2 separate regions of the Homo sapiens genome follow, and region 1 is linked to region 2. Evidence: fine-mapped expression QTL. A gene starts in region 2. The other region holds a variant in brackets. All regions are shown on one strand. Distances are from middle to middle.

Evidence for each region. PIP is the estimated chance that this variant, and not a neighbour inherited with it, causes the effect.
Region 1: its variant is fine-mapped to the expression of PDCD4-AS1 in whole blood (INTERVAL, PIP 0.99).

What each region holds. Positions count from the first base shown.
Region 1 is chr10:110,956,356-110,959,266 of GRCh38, reverse strand. The region is part of intron 1 of SHOC2 (SHOC2 leucine rich repeat scaffold protein); the gene reads right to left. Among named protein-coding and RNA genes, the nearest start is that of MIR548E, 31 kb to the left of the region's middle. The variant T/GT (reference allele first, on the strand shown) is at 1,735.
Region 2 is chr10:110,869,793-110,872,703 of GRCh38, reverse strand. It overlaps PDCD4-AS1 (PDCD4 antisense RNA 1), which reads left to right and starts at 1,800. Exons shown (of 1, transcript NR_026932.1): 1 at 1,800-2,911. It overlaps PDCD4 (programmed cell death 4), which reads right to left and starts at 776. Exons shown (of 12, transcript NM_014456.5): 1 at 686-776. RefSeq lists silencers at 24-223, 434-583, 614-663 and an enhancer at 1,668-2,278.

The sequences.
Region 1 (2,911 bases), 87 kb before region 2:
GATACTCATACTGATCTTGGTATCCGAGTCAAAAATATAACACGTCTATATCAGTTTGCACTTCTAACAATCACATTCATGAGGACATATGTACAAACTTTTGCTCTTCATTGCTTTCTGGTATTGTGCCTGAACACTTAAATACTGAAACATAAAATGTATAATAAATTCTTCATTTTTTTCTAATATCATTGTGCCTAAGCATTTACATAACATATAAAATGTACAATATTTTTCTTATATATCTCCTTTAAGAAATTACATAGATTTTTAAAAATAATGTAGGTTACTATCATTTTAAGAGTAAGGAAGTGTTACAGAATGTTGCATAAATGGGATATTAGGTCTGATGTACTTGAGAACAATTGGTTTAAACTACAAAGGTACTAGGAAAATATAGGAATAATTCTAGAAACAGAAAGCAGTTGGGGATGAACAGGAGTAGGGAGAAGGAAGGGATTCAGGGTAATGTCTGAGTAGCCGGCTTAAATCAGGTGGAGGCAGCATGATTATTCAAGACAGGGAACAAAAAAAAAAAGAAAATTAGTAAAATTTTGAACAAATTTATACTTAGATTCTAGTCTAGTCCACACTTGAAAATGTGATTTTAGAATAAAGGAGGGAGGTCTGGGCTAGAAATAAAGATACAGCTTTGGTGTCAACAGCAAAGGTTTCAGATGAGACTATCCACAAAACGCATGTAGAAGATGATACTGGTACTCTGGGGAAGATAAATATTTAGAAATGGATGGATGGGCCAAGTGCAGTGGCTCACGCCTGTAATCCTAGCATCTTGGGAGGCTGAGGCAGACGGATCAGGAGGTCAGGAGATTGAGACCATCCTGGCCAACATGGTGAAACCCCGTCTCTATTAAAAATACAAAAATTAGCTGGGCGTGGTGGTGCACACCTGTAGTCCCAGCTACTCAGGAGGCTGAGGCAGAAGAATCGCTTGAACTGGGAGACAGAGGTTGCAGTGAGCCAAGATCGCACCACTGCACTCCAGCCTGGCAACAGAGCAAGACTCCGTCTTAAAAAAAAAAAAAGAAAGAAAGAAATGGATGGAAGACAAAGGCCTCAAAGAGAAACAGAGGTACACATAAACTAGGAAAGGGTATTGTCAAAGCAGCAGCCAGTTCATCTATTTAAATTTTAGAAGGAAGGAGTAGTCAAAAATATGTAGCATACTGGCAGAAAACTTAGCCTTAGAGAAGACGGATCTTTTTTCCTTTCAATTAAAAAATGAGAATGGATTCAGCTACAGACAAGTTTGTTTGAAGGGAGGAGGAATAAGAGAGTTAAGTGGGATTATCATCTCCAGTTACATACAGAATCATATTTGTTTGGTGAAACAGAAGCAAATTAATCTGTTGAGAACATGAAAGGCAAAGTTTGCTAAGGGGTTGATGAAAGAAGTAAAAGGAATGTATGAGGACATAGACCAGAGATAAATAAAATTGCTGAGTCTGATAAATTTTGATATCATTAATTTGTCGTGGCATCAATCTCCAAAACTGTACTTGGCAATCTAAATTGTATTCCTAAATTAATTTAAAGTTGAGGGGATTCACAGGGCAAGTGTGGCAGAAAAATAAGGGACCAGACAGTACAGTTTGGGCTGGTAAGGAGAAAAAAGTGAACCTAATAAGCCATTAGTTTCTTAGATAATTAGAGGAAAAGGGAGTGATCAAGAAACTGGAAGAGTGAGTTGGAAATTGTGGGCTGGGGGGGGGG[T/GT]ATCTTCATGATTAAGAATCTGATGTTCTTCCTGCAGGAGAATTTACATTTATCCACAAACATATACATGCGGCATTATACACACCAGGTAAAAAACTATGTTAAGTCAAAGAGTCGGTATAACAGACGAGCATTAAAAAGCTAAAAAGATAGTAAATTATGGCAAAACAAAGCAATAAGCTTTCAATCACAACAGTCCTAAGACTTTGAGAAGTAAAGAAATGAGCTGATTTACTCAAGCACATATTGGAGTCACTGAGTTGCTGAAACTAGAATACAGAGCTACTGATATTCAGGGCACTATTCTAACCAATCTTGCTGACTACAATAACATATTTTATCTTGATGAACCATTTAAATGGTATGAAAGCATGGAACAATACTACAACCAAAGGTACCCATTTATGAATATTGCTATTTCCAAACTTAAATACAAAGATCAGCAAATTACAGGAAGAAAATATCTATTAAGTTAATGTTGCCTTAGGGCAAATGCCCAATAAAGAGCTTGTTTTCTTGATCTCTGAACAAAGCTCCAGGTTCACCAGAAAAGGTACCCTGATGTCTAATTCTGCAGGTCAGCTAGAACCTTTTCTTTCAATTAAAGAGGCTACAAATATAGCTAACTTTCTTACAAGAAGAAGCTACTTACGAGATATTTCACTGGCAATATATTAAAAGGAACATTAAACGGAATACTTTGTTATTTAAAAAAAAAAAGGATTTTTCCTAGGGCCCAATCATTTATTTTTTCTTTTATTTCTCATAAACATGAAAAACACAATGATTATATAAGGTAACAGAGGCAGACAATCTAAACCCAAGCAGATCAAGATAAATGTAAGATTTAAAACATTCATTTTATACAAGACTATCATTTTTTAACATGTAAGAAGAGTTTTCAAACTGGAAAAGTCTTAAACTTTTTATTCCACAATTTCAACATATTTTAGGACAAGGAGCACTGCTGTGAAAAACAAAGGTTTTTTAAAAAGCAGCAAAGTATCACAGGACATTAGGCAAAGCAGCAGAATTGCAAGCAGCTATATCCAAAGAAGCAGAGTGGTCTTAAGGTATGAAATGTAGTCAGGAGTTTGAGACCAGCTTGGCCAACATGGTGAAACCCAGTCTCTACTAATAATACCAAAAAAAATTACCCAGGTGTGCTGGCGCGCAC
Region 2 (2,911 bases):
ACGAAGTTCGCGCAGGGATGGGGCGGCGGGCACGTGTTCGCCTCCCAGCGCCCCCGGCGAGGATAGCGCGCGGCCCCTCCCCACAGCGGCCGGGCCTGTTCTCCCGCAGCGGGCTCAGGCTAGGACCCCCGAAGTCCCAGCCCGGGTCGGCCCCCGGAAGGGGCTGGGCCGGGGCCGAGGCCGGGGCTCCGGGTTCACGAAGGACAGGGGGCCGCATCTTCAGAGGATTCCCAGGGAGGGCAGGGGGCGGGGAGGGCGCGAATCTTCCTCACAGGATTTCAGTCCAGCCGGAAACACGCCTTCCAATCCCGGCCCCCGAATTCAACCTCCGCCAGAGGGGGAGGAGGGCTGAGGGGGACCTTCAAGGGCGAGCGCCTCGCGCGCCCCTCTCAGTGGGGAGATGGCTCCGGGAGGGGGCGGGCCCGCGCCGACACGCTCCAGGCTGGGCTCAGAAAGAGGGAACCAGGCCGGATGCCCGCAGTCCGGGGCGTTGGGGAGGGCGCGGCTGGACCTGCGGGGCTACAAGAAGGCAGCCGGACCCCCGCACCGCAGGCCCGGACCTGACAGGACCGCGACCCCCACGCCTCCGCCCCCGCCCCCTCCCATCTTGCGGCTGCCTCCGAGGAGGGATGGGGGAGAGGGCGCAGTCTTCCCGAGCGTGTGAGCCGCGCCTACTGGTACTGACCCCTCGGGCCCCCGCCGCTGCTCGCCCAGGTTCCTGGTCAGCCGGCCCCGACCCCGCTCTTCTGTCTCTGCCGCCGCCTCGGAGAGTCTCTGGCCCTTCTCGCTCTGTTTGTTTTTGTTTTCTTCTACCCAGTAACACGGGGGCGAGAGGGCGGCGCTTATTGGCCGAGGCCGGGTGGTCGGCTGGCCAATCGTGGCGGCGGAGCCGGAGCTGAGGAGGAAAAGGGAGAGGAGTGAAACGTGGAAAGTTGGGGAGGGGCGCGGGAGGGCGCATGCGCATGTGGCTCCTGGGACTGGCTGGAGCGGGAGTTGAGCGGGAAGTCGGGGTGGGGGTATGTTGGGAGGCGTGGCGGGATGGGAGCGTTGGGAAAAGGGCAGTGCTGGGGGATGGGGACGAGGATGAAGCTTCCTCGACCCAGCTCACCCATTCTCCTCACAGGGCGTTCTGCAAACTCGGCTGAAGCAAAGGTTTTGAGCTTCCTGATGGTCCCTGCCTCCATTTCTAGAAACTGCTTAGGCGAACACTCCAAGTGATCAGCCTGTCCGATTCCTCCTCCCTCTGGCCGCTGCTTTCTCTGTGGCTTCCAGTTTCTGGAGATCCCATGCTAAGAAGTTTCTCTCAGCGAATCCCCTCAAACCTTTGAGATGGAAATAATTCCCATTTCACAGATATAAAGCAGGCTCCAAAACTCTTTGAAGTTCCTTTGCTAATCATGACTAGCCAAGCCTCTGGCGTTCAAACGCACAAATTCCGGCCTCCAGTGCTGGGGTTCTCAGCCATGGCTACAATTTCTGTATTGAAACTTCCACCTCCCCTCGCTGTTCTCTGTGACTTTTCCTCTTGGCTGCATTGGTTTTGGCTGGTACTATCCTTACTCTTTCAAGGTCACGGTCCCCTGAGGGTGATAACCAGAACCTTAGGCTTCCTTTGTGTTCCCAGGCGGGGACTTAGCCACTGCCTCTGATCAGATTTTTCAGTTGTCTGATGGGCAGCACCGAATGATTGCTTGTGCTCTCCAGAACCCAACTGCCTCATCCCGCACAGGCCAGCGCTTTCCCTTGGCTGCCCAGTCACCCTGCCTGGGAATCATCTCTAATGCTACTATTTCTCTGCACACACACGCACACACACACACACAAACCTTCACTGGCTTCCCATTGCCTCTCTTGAGTGTCAGCGCCTCGGTCGGTCATTCAAGGCTCCGTGATGTGACTTCAAGACTTTCAGGCTGTGTCTCCACACATCTCCCCATATGCTTCCTCACCCCCTGGTAGTTCTTTATATATCACCTTGAAATGTCTCTCTTCTCATCTCCTATCTCCGCCTGATGCAATCCTTCTGTGCCTCATGGCCCTTCCTGGTAGTTTTTTATTTTGTTGTTGTTGTTGTTTTATTTAATTGAGGCAGGGGCTTGCCCTTTAGCCCAGGAGAATGCAGTGGCATGATCACAGCTCACTGCTGCCTCGACCTCCGTCAGCCTCCCTAGCTCAACGATCCTCTCACCTCAGCCTCCTGAGTAACTGGGACTACAGGCACAGCTCACTATGCCCAGCTAATTTTTGTATTTTCTGTACACACAGGGTTTCATCATGTTGTCCAGGCTGGTCTTGAACTCCTGGGCTCAAGCAATCAGCCCACCTCTGCCTCCCAAAGCGTTGAGATTACAAGCGTGAGCCACCATTCCTGGACCCTCGTAGTTTTTCTGGAGCCTCGTGATTTGATATGATCTTCCTGCCGCTGATTCCTCACAGTGTTGGCTTGCCACACCTCCAGGGGCACTGATCACATTCTACCTGGCATTATTTCATCTGAGTCCCTGTCCTAGCCCTTCTGCCCATTAGACTGTAACCTTGTTTAGGGAAAGACCTGTGTCTTACTCATCTGTGATTTTGTTGTTGTTGTTGTTTTGAGACAGGGTCTTGCCCTGTTGCCCAGGCTGGAGAGCAGTGGTGCAATCTTGGCTCACTGCAGCCTCAACCTGTTGGGGTCAAGCCATCCTCCCACCTCAGCTTTCCAAGTAGCTGAGACTACAGGCCTGTGCCACCACACCCAGCTAGTTTTTTGTATTTTTAGTAGAGATGGGGTTTTGCCATGTTGCCCAGGCTTCTCTTGAACTCCTGAGCTCAAGGGATCTGCCTGCCTCGGCCTCCCAAAGTGCTGGGATTACAGGCGTGAGCCACTGTGCCTGACCCACTCACCTGTCATTGTAGTACTTAAGATGCCTTG